Regions from separate parts of the Homo sapiens genome. Here region 1 is linked to region 2. Evidence: fine-mapped expression QTL. A gene starts in region 2. The other region holds a variant in brackets. All regions are shown on one strand. Distances are between the middles of the regions.

Region 1 (8,337 bases), 120 kb after region 2:
CTCCCTATCTTAGACCATCAAATGAGGCGTCATGTGTGCAGGTCAGGTTGCAGTTAGAGATACATTTGAATGATGTCGCCCACATTGGTCTTTGGAATGTGGAATCTTTTTTTTTTTGTCCTTTCATTAGTACATGTAGCAGATCTGAAAGAGAATTCAGCTTGAATTTTCTCTGTTTGGAAGAGAATTGGTAATGTATCCAAAGCACTTCTCTTTTCATACTCAAGTTAACTTCAAATGGTTGTAGAGCCTACAGGGATTTTATTTAGCCATAATGAAACTGATTATGACCAACAGTTGGCTTCTAATAACAAATGTTACATTTTTGAAAATGTGCAGATTTTGAGGTTTATCACAGGTGAGAATCTGTCCTATCTGAGATTGTTGTTTCAGCATATTTTAGAGTGATACTCACGTTGAGATGCATTAGATCTCTTAAGGAAAATTGCTAAGTGCAAATTCAGTTCTGTGAGCTGCACATAAAGGTGCTTCAGTCACTTTGTGATTGTAGGAAAAAGAGAACTTTCTAGGGCATGGTTTTATAGTTTTATGTCTTTGGAGGTTTTTGGTTTGTTGTTACTGTTTTTAATGATTCCGCTCTGTCACCCAGGCTGGAGTGCAGTGGTACAATCATAGCTTGCTTCAGCCTTGAACTCCTGGGCTCAAGTGATCCTCCCACCTCAGCCTCTCAAGTAGCTGGGATTACAGGTGGGGGCCACTGTGCTGGCTGGGAGATATTTAAAGACATAAGTTTCTCTCAGATCACTTTCCTTGTTAATAATGCTGACAAATGCTAGGAGTTGTTATCTTACATCTGGTCTCTTCACTTTTATGAGTGCCATGGAACTCATAAGCTGTATTGTGAGCAAGTGTATTTTCAACCTTCTCAGGAAGTTTAAGATTGTTAAAACAAATTTTTAAGAAGTAAAGACTGTATTTAGAAGATAAAGTTGAAGGGAGATTCAATTAGTTACAACATCTTTGGATCCGTTGTTTCTTACAGTGTGCAGTAATTAAGCTTTCAGGACACAAGGTACAAATACTAGTAATAATACGGACTCATCTCCAAAAGTATAGGAAAGTTAATGTGACAGTGTTTCAAAGATGATGCCTAATTTTAAACACCAGATTATTTTTGTGTCTTAAAAATCAAAGTTTTGATTGTAATGGATAGGGTTTGGGGTAAATAAAATATAGAAGCCTTCCTATTGAAGACTTTACAAAATTATCATCAAATTGTATACTCTGGTTAAAAAAAGATAGATTCAATTTCTAACCTTAAAACTCTTCTTTGGGCAAACAAAAAGGTGGGTTCTCAGGGTCAGAACACTTTTCAGGATGACCCCATTTCTTAAGTTGTTGGAAATAATATTTTGATAAGGTCCTTCAGTTCCTTCTTCATGCCTCAGGTTCCTTTTGTGTACTGTTTTGTGGAGAGCCCATAAAGAGACGAGACATACACTTGCCTTTTAAGTCTGGGAGGAGGAAAAGTATTTCTGATACCCAGTTTTGCCTTCCCGTAGGTGAATTTCACCAAGTTACTTCAAAACTTTTCTACTCACCACAACACATGCCACCTTTACCATCTTACTCCCCTCCCAGCAGAGAAACTTGCCTCTTTTCCTTATGTAACTAGTAGATGGGACTATAGTAATTTGTTTCAGTAACCTCTCAACTCATTTAAATGATCTGGTCTCTGCCTCAAGACCAGTGGTTCTCAGCTAGAGTTGATTTTGCTTTTTCTCCGCCCAGGGGACAGTTAGCAGTTTTTGGAGACACTTTCTGGTTATCACAACTTGGTGTGGGGTACTGCTGGCATCCAGTGAATATTAGAGATTAGGGTGCTGCTAAATATTCTATAGCGCATAGGGTGGCACCACCCCATAACAAAGAACTGTCCCCAAATGTCCGGAGTGCCCAGGCTGGGAAACCTTGCTCTAGTTTTAGACATAACACGCTGTAGGTCCTGAGCAAATTTTTAATTATCCTGGTTCACTCAGAACACTGCATCATCAAATGTCTTCTCTTTCCTGTATTTTTTAATTTTTTATTATTATTTTTAGATGGAGTTTCACTCTCGTTGCCCAGGCTGGAGTGCAATGGTGCATCTCAGCTCACTGCAACCTCCGCCTCCTGGGTTCAAGTGATTCTCCTGCCTCAGCCTCCCGAGTAGCTGGGATTACAGGCATGCGCCACCACGCCTGGCTAATTTTGTGTTTTTAGTAGAGACGGGGTTTCTCCATGTTGGTCAGGCTGGTCTTGAACTCCCGACCTCAGGTGATCCGCCTGCCTCGGCCTTCCAAAGTGCTGGGATTACAGGCGTGAACCACCGCGCCCAGCCTTCCTGTATTTTTTTAAAACTCTCTCTCTTCACTGACACCAGGTGTTGCTATTAATGTGCTCAAATCTCTCACTTATAAAAAAGAATAAAACCTCTCTCTTTTCTAGTTACTGGTCTGTTTATTCTTTTGTAGAATGATCTTTGGGAAGAGTGTTTTCATTTATCCCAGTCTCTTCATCTTTTATTCCTTAGTGCACTGTCGTTGACTTTTGACCCCACCAATCCATTGAAATTTCTTTCCAAAGTCACTAGTGATCTATTGACCAAATCTAGCAGCCATTTTCATTGCTTATCTTACTTGATAGCACCACAGATTTAATGTTAGTGACTACTTTCTTGAAACTACTCCCTTGACTTTGCAGACCACTCTCCTGTGCCCATCGTCAGTGTTTCTTTTTTGAATTCTACAACTTCCCATGTGGTTCCATCTGTTCACACATGTTCATGCCCACATGAGCTCACTTAGGACCAACATACCAGTGAGTACACCATTGATACTCAGGTCTGCCTGACTTTCTACCTAGATAGCTTATAAGTATCTCAGGCTTAATCTCTATATTTTCTCTTCCTAATTCCCGCCAAAAATGTTTTCTCTTTTCCCAGTGGTTGACATTCCCATTCTTTCCATCTCCCAAGTTAGAGACTAGGAAACTATTCTCTTTTGCTCTCATCCCTTAGTAACAAAGTGGTTAGGATTTTTACTCACTAAACATAACTGAAATTTGCATTTCCATTGCCTTTGCCTTGGTTCAGTCCTGTTTTTTGCGGGGGACGGAATTTCGCTCTTGTTGCCCAGGCTAGAGTGCAGTGGCATGATCTTGGCTCACTGCAACCTTTGCCTTCCAGTTTCAAACGATTCTCCTGCCTCAGCCTCCCAAGTAGCTGGGATTACAGGCGCATGCCACCATGCCCAGCTAATTTTTGTATTTTTAGTAGAGATAGGGTTTCACCATGTTGGCCAGGCTGGTCTCGAACTCCTGACCTCGTGATCTGCCCACCTTGGCCTCCCAAAGTGTTGGATTACAGGCGTGAGCCACTACGCCCGGCCTTGATTCAGTCCTTCGTTGACAGTTCCAGTGGCTTCAAAACTATCTTCCAGGCTCAACACTGACAAACACAACTTCTGCAATGCTTACCAGAGTAATTTTTCCAGAATTTTCCTAGGTGAAGAGAGAGCGTAGCATCTGGAGCTTACGTTGCCAGAGTTTGAATTGAGGGCAAATCATTTTTCTTTTTGGTGCTTCAGAATTCTCAGTGGGAATGAACATGTTAGTACCAATTTTATAAGGTTGATGTAGAGTTAAGTGACTGAGTACATGTAAAGCTCTTGAAACAGTTTCTGGGTAAATAATGTTAGCTGCTATTAGTTTATACGATCATTAATGTTGTAATACACATCTGAACACACCTACCAAAAGTTCTTCATTTCTGTGGTAACCTACCAAATAAAATTTAAACTGCTTATTCTGACTTGCTGGACTCATCATGACCTAACTCTGTTTACTTTTCCAGTTTCTTATCTGATCTCTGCTGTAAATACGATGTGTTTCAGCAATTTGATACCCTTAGCAGTTCCTCCAGAGTGCTTTTACTGCTTGACTGTTTCTTCTCCCTGAAATGCTGTCCCCATCTATACCGTATAGACTCCTACTTGTTGACCTGTTTGCTTTTTTGATTTTAAGCAAATGAGCTCTTTGAGGACAGAGATCTTATTAATGCTTATGTCTGACTCATAGTACACATTTAGTAAAAATTTGTTGAAAGCATAAATGAACATTTAAAAAACGAGAAGAGACTGGGCACAGTACACTCCCAGCACTTTGGGAGGCTGAGGTAGGAAGATTGCTTAAGCCCAGGAGATCGAGACCAGCCTGAGCAACAACGTAAGACTCCATCTCTACAAAAAACCTAAAAATATTAGCCAGGTATGGTGGTGTGCCCTGGTGGTTCCAGCTACTTGGGAAGCTGAGGTAGGCAGATCACTTGAAGATCAGTTGAGCCCAGGAGGTCAAGGCTTCAGTGAGCTATGTTCACGCCTCTGCACTGCAGCCTGGGCGACAAAACGAGACCCTGTCTTTTTTTTTTTCTGAGACAGAGTCTCGTTCTGTTGCCCAAGCTGGAGTGCATGATCTCACCTCTCTGCAACCTCCGCCTCAGTACCAAGTAGCTGGGACCACAGGTGCTTGCCACCATGCCTGGCTAATTTTTTTTTTCTTTTTTTCTCTGAAGACGGGGTTTCACCATGTTGGCCAGACTGGTCTTGAACTCCTGACCTCAGGTTATCCACCTGCCTTGGCCTCCCGAAGTGCTGGGATTACAGGCGTGAGCCACTGCACCCAGCCCAAGACCCTGTCTTCAAAACAAAACCTAGAAGAATCAAACCACTGAAATCTGGAAAAATTAGTTACTTGCTACACAAAGCCTTGCACCAGCAACTTCAGCATCACTTGGAAGCTTATGATGCTCAGAATCTTAGGCTCCATCCCAGAGTCACCGAATCAGGATCTGCGTTTTTAAAAGATCCTCAAGTGATTCATAGGTGTGATAAAATTTAGTTGTAGTTCATTTATCTTTTCCCCAACAAACACAAGTTTTCATATATTCGAAGTCTTATTTTTGATGTTACTATAGATTAAAAGAATTTTGTAAATAAGCTTAGTGACAAGAAAAGTGAAACAAATTTAAAAATAGCAGTTAAACTGAATAATGATTTTGTTTCCTCCTAAGACAACAGTTAGCAGAAGTCATATGTACAGTTGTTTCTGAAGGTGAGATCATTTTTTAACTAGAGCTGCTCCATGGTGTATTTAAGAGTTTTATTTGATACCATCTCTGGTAATATTAGAGCCTTGAGAGCATGTCTC[A/G]TATGAATATTTTTATTTTGCCTATAGATTGAATTTCATGAAATGTTGAGGTGGAAGTCTGTGGATTAGGACTGAGGGAATACCTTCTTTGGTTCTTTCTGATTTTTTGACAGGCTTCCCTAAGTTTGTCCTAGGCCTCACTCTACCTTAGTAGATACTGGCAATGTGCCCATTAGGAGAGAATAGAATTCAGTAAAATGTGAAAGGTTTTTAAAAAGTGTCATTGATAAATAAGATGAAAAGATTGGAAACCATCAAAGCTTTATTACTTAAAAGTTAACGTAGGCACTATGTTCAGCTCAAGTACCTTAAGAGGTATGTCTTCGTGCTTACACATCAACATACAGAGGTTAATGTTGTTATATGGCACAACTTTTGTGTAGGAAATGTTTCAGTCACAGTATTAAAGTTTCTATTAAAATATTTCTAAAAATATGGGAAATGTGACATTTTAAATTAATGGGCCTGAAAAAAATAGCTTAAAGTTAAATGTTTTTATCGGATTATAAGAGTTCCAAGTTTCTTTCTAGATTATTTGAAATAGTTTACAAAATGCTATTTTAAACAGACTTTCAACCTGTTTCAAAACTCAAATATAGATGCCTGAGGGTTGAGAGAAAGAGAGTGTGTTACCACATGTTTATCATTGGAATGTAGAAACAAATTCATACTCAATTCAGCAAATACTTATTGAATAATATATATATTTCAGATGCCTTGATAAAAATTGGTGACAGTAGGTAATTGAGAAAGATATTACGTTATTGACAGAACACAGTTCCTGCCTTCAAGGAGTTTACCTTTTAGTGAGAAACAACCAGTAAATTCTATTTCAATATAATGTATGAATTGCTGTAACAGATTGGGTACGTAAGATACAGCTAGAACATAGAGAAAGGATGCTAGTTGCTAGATTTTCATTAGAAGATGCATTTTTGTTTCAGCAAATTAACTTCCTAAGTCTCAATATCCTCATCTATAAAACTAGAAATAAAAAGTACCTGGAAGACTCATTTTGAGGGTCAAATGAAAATACATGTGCAGTGCTTAGTACAATACATAAAACAGACTGCATAATAAATGTTGACTGCTGCTAATACTTAGTGGCCATTACTTAGGAAATCTTTCCTTCTGTCTTTGTGATTTCTGCTTCCCTTTCTTCTTTATTTATTTATTTTATTTTTAATATTCGTAGCCCTAGTCCATGGATTTGAAGGAAACATTGCTAAAATCATGGAGGTAAAATTTAGGTTTCTTTGGACATTTCTTTTCTCCTATTGTCCCTTCCCTGCCCACCCAACATGAATAACCCTAGTCTCCTCTTTAACTTTTGAAAGTTTCCGGAACAGTAATGGTAGGGTCCTTTTACAGCATGATGTCACGTGTTACTCAAGACTTGTACTGTCCAGTATGGTAGCCTTTAGTCACCTATTGCTATTTAAATTTATAAAAAATTAAAAATTCAGTTCCTCAGTCACACCAGTCACACTTAAATGCTCAACAGCCACATTAGCTAGTGCCTACCAAATTGAGCGGCACAAGTACAGAACATTTCCAGGAGGTCCTATTTTATAGCGTTACTCTAGAAGAGCAATTGCTGATAACATAGGCTGTTTACCTTAATTAAAATTATATGATTCAGAATTCTCTGTCCCAAACTATATTTAAATTTTTTTTTTTTTTTAATTCTCACTTCTGGTTAGTTTCCATTAAGGAGTTACCATGCTTCACAATGCTGATTCTTATTTTTATAAATATAAACTCTACATTGGTATTTCAATTTGTGTTTTAAGTCTTACTAAAATGTCTTGGGGTGTTTTTTTCAAATATAATTCAGTGAAGTTTTCAGACTCTTTTAAGTCACATCTTTAAAATGCTATTTCTGATTAAAGATAACGTAACATAATGTTGCGATAAATATGTATTCTGCTCTACAATAAATATATAGACTGCTTTACTCCCTTCTTTCTTCTTCAGTCTTTTATGTATTATATTTGCCTTTTCTGAGCAATTCAGCTTGCTTTTTCCAAATACAGTATTCAGTTAGGGTGTTTCATACACCAGCTGCCATTTACATCTATGTTATTACCTATGGCAGACACCTACACATGCTGACAGACAATTTTAAGTCAGTCAGTCCATCCTTAAGGTTACCAAAAGACCAGAAAGATTATCTACTGACTGCTGCTGGGCAGATTTTACACTGAGTTTGAAGTGTTCAGTTATATATAACATTCTGGCTCAGTTCGTCAAGAACTCATCCATAATTCTTCCTGGAAGTGTCCTCATGTGCAACTGTCAGGATCTTTCCAGAGAGACTTTTAAAAAAATTCTGTAACCCTAAAAATGATGTTTGCTACTTTTTGATTTGTTGCAATATAAACAGGTAATATTTACAGACAATATAAGTAAATACTGAGTTCCTTTTCATACTATGAACTACGTTATTGCTATGTTGACCTGTTGAGTTCACTGTATACTTTATGAAGCCATATTCTCAACAATATATCATGATATCAATGATCTTTAGTAATTAGTCTTTTATTCTGAAAGATTGGGCACCAGATCAGAGTTGAAGAGAAAGTGAATAAGCCTTTAATGTTTTAACAATATCTTGGAGTTTGAAAACACCATAGAGATCACTGGCTGTATTTTTTAGAAAAGAAAAAATTTAAAAGAAATTGTGACTTATAGTCATGGGCCTACGTAGCAGTTTTCTTTTTTAATGTATACTTTATTCCATATAAGTTGGTATATAATGTTTACAATTTACACATCTCTATAGAAATGCAATGAACAAATTTGAATTCAGAGAGACTCAAAGAGGGCCAGTTACTTCATGTCTCATTGTCTCAGTTTTTTTTTTTTTTAATGTAAAATGGGCCAATTATTGTGTTGAGCTTAAGTGTTTGTTTTGAAGACCTAAAGAGTAATGCATGGTACTAACACATGCCACAGCATGGTTGAATCTTGATGATACTGTGCTAAGTAAAAGAAGCCAGACACAGGCTGGACGCGGTGGCTCACGCCTGTAATCCCAGCACTTTGGGAGGCTGAAGTGGGTGGATCACTTGAGGTCAGGAGTTTGAGACCAGCCTGACCAACATGGTGGAACCCTGTCTTTACTAAAAC
Region 2 (8,337 bases):
TTCTTTTATATTCCTAGTCCTATTCTAACCATTTCTTTAAATTTGAAAAATTGTGATTAAATACATATAAAACTTATTTTTAACCAATTTTAAGTGTACAGCCCTATGGCATTAAGTACGTTCACACTGTCATGCAACCGTTACCACCAGCCACCTCCAGAAATTTTCATTTTCCCAACCTGAAGTTCTGTACCTATTAAATGACAACTCCTGGTTTCTCTCTCCCCCAACCCCTGGAAACTACCATTCTGCTTTCTGTCTCTCTGAGTTTGACTATTCTAGGTAGCTTATATAAGCGGAATCATACAGTACTTGTTCTTTTGTAACTGGCTTTTTTTCTCTTAGCACAATGTCTTCAAGGTAAAACTGTGTTATAGCATGTATCAGAATTTCCTTCTTTTTTTTTTGAGACGGAGTTTTGCTCTTGTCACCCAGGCTGGAGTGCAATGGCATGATCTTGACTCACTGCAACCTCCGCCTCCCAGGTTCAAGCAATTCTCTTGCCTCAGCCTCCCGAGTAGCTGGGATTACAGGAGCGCACCACCACGCCTAGCTAATTTTTGTATTTTTAGTAGCGATGGGGTTTCACCATGTTGGCCAGGCTGGTCTCGAACTCCTGACCTCGGGTGATCTGCCTGTCTTGGCCTCCCACAGTGTTGAGATTACAGGCGTGAGCCACCGTGCTGGGCCTTGAATTTCCTTCATTTTTTAAGGCTGAATATTCCATTGTACCACATTTTGTTTATCCATTCATCCATCAATGGACATTTGGGTTGCTGCCACCTTTTAACGATTGTGAGTAACACTGTTCTGAACATGCATGTTCAAGTCTCTGCTTTCAGTTCTTTTGGCTACATACACATACGTGAACTTGCTAGATCATATGGCAATTCTATGCTTAGTTTTTTGAGGAACTGCCAAATAGTTTCCCACAATCTTTTAAAAATCATTTTATTGGTAGTATAATAATTCATTTGTCTCTATACCCTAATTTACTAAGCATTCTGGAATGTTTGCTTCCTAAGTTTTCTTTTTTCCAATTGGGTGGGAATTAGTTTTAATTTAGACAATGCTCCAGGTTTTTGCCCCGTTTTAAAAGTACCTCATAAACATATATTATTCCTTCTAATAGCTGATAATTCACGTTGTTTTTTTTTTTTTTTTTTTTTTTTTTTTTTTTGCTTAGTGCTACCTCACAATTATCCCTTATCTAAGAAGTGCCCTGTCCATGGGAGCGAGTACCCTCTAGCTAGACCTATGCTTTCCAATATGGTAGCCACTAGCCACATACTTAAACATGAGTCAATTAAAGTAAAATAAAATTGGAAATTATCTTCCTCAGCTGCCCTAGCCGTATTTCAAGTGCACAGTAGCCACACAGGGCTAGTGCTACTGAATTGGGCCGCACAGATTCAGAACATTTCCATGACCCCAGAAAGTTCTATGGTGACTACTGCTCTAGACTATTTTTGACTCTGACCTCTTGGCCATGGCTGAATTCATTTCTATAAGTTACTCCCAGAAACTATTTAGTCCTCAGGGACAATCTGATGATAACATTTACAGGAGAACACCAGAAACTTTAGATTATGAAATATCTCTTCCAATGACTGAAGTACTCCTGACCACTATTTCCTATCAGTCTTTTGAGAACCAAATTAGTGGTCAGTTTCTTGGTGATGGTCACCTAATCCAAGCTGGGTCAATGAAATTCCTTATTTCTTTCCTTGGGAATTTGGATTTGGGAAGGAAGAGGTCGTCATTCAGGTCCTCAAGTTGTCTAGAACTATAAAACCAAAAGTAATAGATTCCACTAGATAAAACAGAGAATTGGGTAAAGCAATAGAAAAATTAAGCAGATAAGCAGAGATTACATTGCCTCTTAGGTTTTCTATTTTGGTTCAAGTCCCTCCCTTGGACTCAGCTACATTTCTGACTTTTGGTTACATGAGAAAAACCTGTACTGTAATAATGAATTATTATTTTATGCTTAAACTAGCTCAAATTGGCTGGTTATACTGGCAATCAGAATCCTAGCGTACATACATACACACACACACACAGACACACACACACGGGTACTGTTTTCACACTCTGTATGTAGTTGTGTATAAATTTTGTATATAGTCATTGCACTGGAACCCCAGGCTCCCCTCTAACCCTTCTCTTGCTTTATCGCCTTCTTATATTAAGATTGTGTTTAGGCTGGGCGAGGTGGCTCATGCCTGTAATCCCAGCACTTTGGGAGGCCGAGGAGGGTGAATCACTGGAGGTCAGGAGTTTGAGATCAGCCTGGCCAACATGGTGAAACCCCGTCTCTACTAAAAATACAAAAATTAGCCGAACGTGGCGTCGGTTGCCTGTAGTCCTAGCTACTTGGGAGGTTAAGGCAGGAGAATCGCTTGAACCCGGAAGGCGGAGGTTGCGGTGAGCCGAGATCGCGTCATTGCACTCCAGCCTGGGCGACAAGAGCAAAACTCAGTCTCAAAAAATAAATAAATAAAAAATAAAAGCCGGGCGCGGCTATAATCCCAGCACTTTGGGAGGCCAAGGCAAGCGGATCACAAGGTCAGGAGATCAAGACCATCCTGGCCAACATGGTGAAACCCCATCTCTACTAAAAATACAAAAATTAGCTGGGTGTGGTGGCACGTGCCTGTAATCCCCGCTACTCAGGAGGCTGAGGCACGAGAATCGCTTGAACCCAGAAGGTGGAGGTTGCAGTGAGCCGAGATCGTGCCACTGCACTCCAGCCTGGCTACAGAGCGAGACTCCGTCCAGCCCCGCCCCAACACCCCGCAAAAAAAAAGATTGTGTTTAGGCTGCTCTCTGTATCTTCCCCCTCTGCTTACCCTGATCAAACTATGCCCTCTGTTACCATTCTGAATGCGGAAGCTTTATTAAATCAAATTGTGAAGCATGTTAACCACTGATTTTATCCTTTAGCTTGTATTGCATTTTAATTTCTCAGGCCTAAGTAATTCCATCAACACTCATTTCATGTATGACCTAATAAATAATCCCTCACAGGCCAAAGCAGCGCCTTTTTTTTCCGTTCTTTTCTTTTTTGTTTCTCTTTTTGAGACAGAGCTTCACTCTTGTTGCCCCGGCTGGAGTGCAGTCACGCGATCTCGGCACGCTGCAACCTCCGCCTCCCGGGTTCAAGCGAATCTCCTGCCTCGGCCTCCCGAGTAGCTGGGACTACAAGGGCGTGCCACCACGCCTGGCTACTTTTTTTGTATTTTTAGTACAGACGGGATTTCACCATGTTGGCCAGGCTGGTCTCGAACTCCTAACCTCAGGTGATCCACCCGCCTCGGTCTCCCAAAGTGCTCGGATTACAGGCGAGAGCCACCACACCCGGCCTCAAAGCAGTGACTTCTGATTGTGAGAACCTGGCATGCACAGAACTGAGTGCAGTACTTTCTCAAGCCACAGTAAATGCTCCTTTAGATGGAGTGATTAGGGGACCTCTTTCAGGAAGATTGAAGGAGGAGGAGTCAGCTATGGAAAGGACAAGAGCAACAGCACCCTGTGTGAAGAGACACAATTGTCCTACCTATGAAAACACTGCTTCTTGTCAAGTAACAGAAAGGCCAGTGTGGCAGGAGGAGAGTCAGGGAGCAAGGGAAGGTGGTGTGAGCTGCGGCAGGCTGGGCTGGGCCTTCAGGCCATGGTGAGAAGTTATGATGGTATCAAATGGGCAATGAGAAAGTATTTAAGGGATTTAAGTAAGGGAGTGACCTGATCTGATTTATCTAAGAAAAACATCCCTCGGCTACTGTCTGGAAATGAACTGTAGGAAGACAAGCAAGGGACCAGTTAGGAGGCTACTGCAAGTGTCAGTAAAAGATCATGGCTAGGCCTGAAGATGGGAGACGGTGGAGAAATCTGTGACAGAATTTGAGATTTTGAAAGTAAATATAAAAGCACTTGGTGAGTTATCCCTGTTACCTTCTCAGTAGCCAGGCCCTATACTAAAGCTGCCAATGAAGTAGAATGAAGGCTCTGAAACCTCAAGAAGGGCCTTACTTTCCCAGTTTCACGGGGCTCTGCGCACAGCTCTTAGGAACTACCTTGATTCCAAAACTCTCCAAAAGTACGATCCTGCCCTTATGTTCCTCTCTCCCTTTGAGTGAATTTGGGAATGATTGTTGAAAAATGACTTTCAACAAGAGGACAGCAGTGTTCGGGGTTCCACGATACATCCCTATCTTTTAACATCGATAAGTATTTTTAAATTGGTACCTTATTTTGCGCTGCACGAGAGAGAAGGCTTTTTACTAGCAGCATCTCCTAATCCATCTAAGAAATACTGTATTTACCTTTACTCCAAGTATCCTAGGGCAAAATTCCTTTAGAACAATTCATCTTCCGAAACAGACGGGTTCCCTTTTCACCTATTCAAGTGTTGTGCATTCTAGGGTCCCCTTCCCGCCTTGCAGACAAATGCGCTCATTGTGCCACTCCAGTCCCTGGATCCTATGCAGCGGGCATTTCCTGCAAGGAGCTGCTGCATGCCTGTTTCCCTCGCCGCCTGCCCCAACCCGAATCCAAGGCTTTGGTTTCTAATGTTCCCTCCCTGTGCAGTTAAAACAATTGAGTTCAGTTACTAAATAGATGACCAGGAACTTTTTCTTGGCGAAGGCTGCGGATGTTTAGGGCACTGTCCAGTAAAGTTGTGAAAAGCAACTAAACCCTGCCGCTTGTGCAAAAGGACCAATCCACCGGGAAACAAGGGAAACGCGCACATTTCCTCAACTTGCCGCTTCTTGGGCACGTTTAGGCTCTTATTAGAGCCGCGCTTTGGAGTTGCCTCCTCCTGCTGTACAAACCCGCCGCGGCGTTCCCCCGGATGCCGCAGCGCTCACTCCCGCGTCCGCGGGGCGCGGGGAGGGGGCGAGGCGCGGGCGGCCCCGGAGCCAAGGCGAGGGCAGCGGAGCCCAGCCGGGCCTACGGGCGGCGACGCTCTGGCCCCAGCGCGCTCGATGGTTTCCGCGCGGCCGCCGGGGCTCGCACGGTCCAGTCGCCAGGGGGCGCGCTAGCCGGCGCCGCGGATCCCCGAACTGCGCGGCCCGACTCGAGTCCGCCATATTGGATGCCGCAGCCGCTGCTGCCAGCGCTTCCTCCTCTGTCTTCGCCGAGCGGGGCTGGTTCCTGCGGCCCGAGCGGCGGGGAGGTGAAACAGGAGCCCGTCGGAGGAAGGGGCAGAAGGGAGTGGAGAGTGTAGGGGAAGGGGCTAGAGGGAGGGGGACCGAAACGGAGCGGGGCAGAGAAGAGAAGGCGCCGCGGCCCAGCCCCTCCCCCGCCCGCCGCCGACCCGCCCCGGCAGCGCCTCTGTTCCCTAGAACGGCGCTCCCCCCGCCCTAGCGGCCATGCCGGTGCCGCTCTGCCGCTGAGGGAGCCCTTCCCCGCCAGCGCGTGCCCTTCCACTCCGCCCCGAGGTCGCAGCGGCCCGCTCTCCCGCCAGCGCCCCCTCCTCGCGGCCACGCAGCAGCCCGCGTCTCGCTCTCCCCACCCAGTGCAGTGGCCGCCGCCTCTTCCGCCGCCGGGCTCGGGGCCTCCGCAGCGACAACATGGAGGCCGTGAAGACCTTCAATAGCGAGGTTGGTATGGCAGCCGGGTTCCCCTGCTCCTGCCCGCACCGCCCCCACCCCTGGTCGAGGCCGGGGCCCGGAGGGTGGGCGCGGGCCTGCGGGTTTTTTAAGGGTGGGGTGAGCGGTGGCCTAGCAGTGCCCGTGGGGGAGGGGTGTTTCTCCTCTGGGTGCCCCTCCCCCGGGTCCGGGAGGAGGGTTGGGGGAGGGCCGCCCTGGGGCGGAGGGAGGTTCTGGCGTCTCCGGCGTCCTATGGAATGGCTGCGAGCTCGGAGGGAAAGACCCGGTTGGGCCCTCACCCGGAGACTCCCGACAGGTCCCTCGAGGTCAGTTCCGCCGAGGCCTGGCCCGCCCACCTCCTTCCTGGGCCTTTGAGGATTTAAGTGGACGCTGGACATGACTCTCCAGACCTTCCCGGGTCCTCACTGAGGCTAACACCGATTGGGGGCGGTGGGGGAAATGAACCTACGGGGTGTTGATCTGTGGTCACGTTACACGTAGTGTTTATAATTGAGGCATTGTTGACTAGGTAATTTGCCAGCTAGGGACTTGAGCTAATTGGATGGTTGGTAGGCAGGCAAAGGTTATTCTGCAATATCTTTTATTTTTACTCGCTCCTCTTCTAATCCATCACGACATAAAGACAAATGGTAGGGAGAGATCTGTGCATCGAGAGATGGAAGATTATGGGGGAAACATTTCTCGCTGGTTCATTCACGTGTCAAACAAGATTTTAAAAAGCAGATTCCATTTTCACTGTGTAGTTGAATTTACTAGTCTGGAAGAAGACAGGTTTTGATGTATTCAATTTCTTTTTAAACTCCGACTTCAATAGGCCTTAATGTAAACATCAAACATAGCAAGTACACATCTGCACAGTCAGCATTAGTATCCCTACCCGTACGCCTTGGAAAGTGTAATTATGGCCGGGAACAGTGGCTCAGGCCTGTAATCCCAGCACTTTGGGAGGCCGAGGCGGGCCAATCACGAGGTCAGGAGTTCAAGACCAGCCTGGCCAACGTGGTGAAACCCTGTCTCTACTAAAAATACAAAAAATTAGCTGGGCGTAGTGGCAGGCACCTGTAATCCCAGCTACTTAGGAGGCTGAGGCAGGAGAATCGCTTGAACCTGGGAAGCGGAGGTTGCAGTGAGCCGAGATCTGCGCCACTGCAATCCAGCCCAGTGACAGAGTGAGACTCTGTCTACAAAAAAAAAAAAAAGAAAAAGAAAAAGTGTAATTATGCTGGTAACTAAATTAGCATAAATTTTATGAACTCTTAAAGTGCCAATACTTTATTCGATACTATGATTGTTAAAGAGTATCTTTAATATTTACCTCTTAAAATACGAGGCTTTTTGCTGTGACGGCCCAAATAGGACAGTACTTTTAAATGCCGTTGCATAGTTTTATCTTGTTTTAATTTCTTTAAAAAGAAAAACAGTATTTGGGAATCTTAGCTAAGAGGCTAAACGGTAGATAATATTTGGGCTATTTTCAATAGCAGTGATACATAACTTTTTTTGGAAAGCATTTTCTTTTTTAATACTACATTTTTTATTTTTAACATTGATAAATTAGAGCAATAGACTTGGGAATCTTCTTTTTTTTTTTTTTTTGAGACAGAGTTTCGCTCTTGTTACCCAGGCTGGAGTGTCACCATCTCAGCTCACTGTAGCCTCCACCTCCCGGTTTCAAGCGATTCTTCTGCCTCAGTGTCCCGAGTAGCTGGGATTACAGGCGCACATCACCACGCCCCGCTAATTTTTGTATTTTTAGTAGAGATGGGGTTTCACCATGTTGGCCAGGCTGTTCTCAAACTCCTGACCTCAAGTGATCCACCCGCCTTGGCCTCCCAAAGTGCTGAGATTATGGGCGTGTGCCACTGCGCCTGGTGTTTCATTTTTTTTCATAGCTATCTTTCTTTTTTTGAGGAGTGTCATTCTGTCACCCAGGCTGGAGTGCAGTGGTGTGATCTTGGCTCACTGCATCCTTTGCCTCCCGGGCCCAAGGGGTCCTCCTCTCACCTCAGCCCCCCAAGTAGGTGAGATTACAGGCCAGTGTCACCATGCCCGTCATTTTTATTTTTTATAGAGAGGAGGTCTTGTTATGTTGCCCAGGCTGTTCTTGAACTCCTGGGCCCAAGCGGTCCTTTCACCTTGGCATCCCAAGTGCTGGGATGACAGATGTGAGCCACCACGCCTGGGGGATTTCGTTTTGTTTTGTTTTTTGCCCTCATTGGATTTAATTCCCGCCGCCACCCTCTTCCCCACACACACTTTGTTGGGTGTCTGTCTTTGGGGGGGTTCCTAATAATGTGGTCCTCCCCCTCAAAGGGCCATCCAAGACTTTTTTTTTTTTTTTTTTTTTGGAGACGGAGTTTTGCTCTTGTTGCCCAGGCTGGAGTGCAATGGCGAGATCTTGGCTCAATGCAACCTCCACCTCCTGGGTTCAAGCAATTCTCCTGCTTCAGCCTCCGGAGTAGCTGGGATTACAGGCACCCACCGCCATGCCCAGCTAGTTTTTTGTATTTTTAGTAGAGATGGGGTTTCATCACGTTGGCCAGGCTGGTCTCGAACTCCTGACCTCAGGTGATCCACCCGGCTCGGCCTCCCAAAGTGCTGGGATTACAGGCGTGAGCCACTGCGCCTGGCCCATCCATGACGTTTTAAACAGTAGCTCCCAAATATTAGATGTAAACAAGTGGTTAGTGCACTATGGTTGGTCACAGTAGGGAAGAAATGT

The links. PIP is the estimated chance that this variant, and not a neighbour inherited with it, causes the effect.
Region 1: its variant is fine-mapped to the expression of SCAF8 in whole blood (TOPMed, PIP above 0.99).

Annotation. Positions count from the first base shown.
Region 1 is chr6:154,848,975-154,857,311 of GRCh38, forward strand. MIR1273C (microRNA 1273c) reads left to right here and starts at 4,386; the gene lies at 4,386-4,462. The variant A/G (reference allele first, on the strand shown) is at 5,206.
Region 2 is chr6:154,728,325-154,736,661 of GRCh38, forward strand. SCAF8 (SR-related CTD associated factor 8) reads left to right here and starts at 5,092. Exons shown (of 20, transcript NM_014892.5): 1 at 5,092-5,606. The coding sequence starts at 5,577. RefSeq lists silencers at 4,725-4,964, 4,995-5,114, 5,265-5,864 and an enhancer at 5,125-5,628.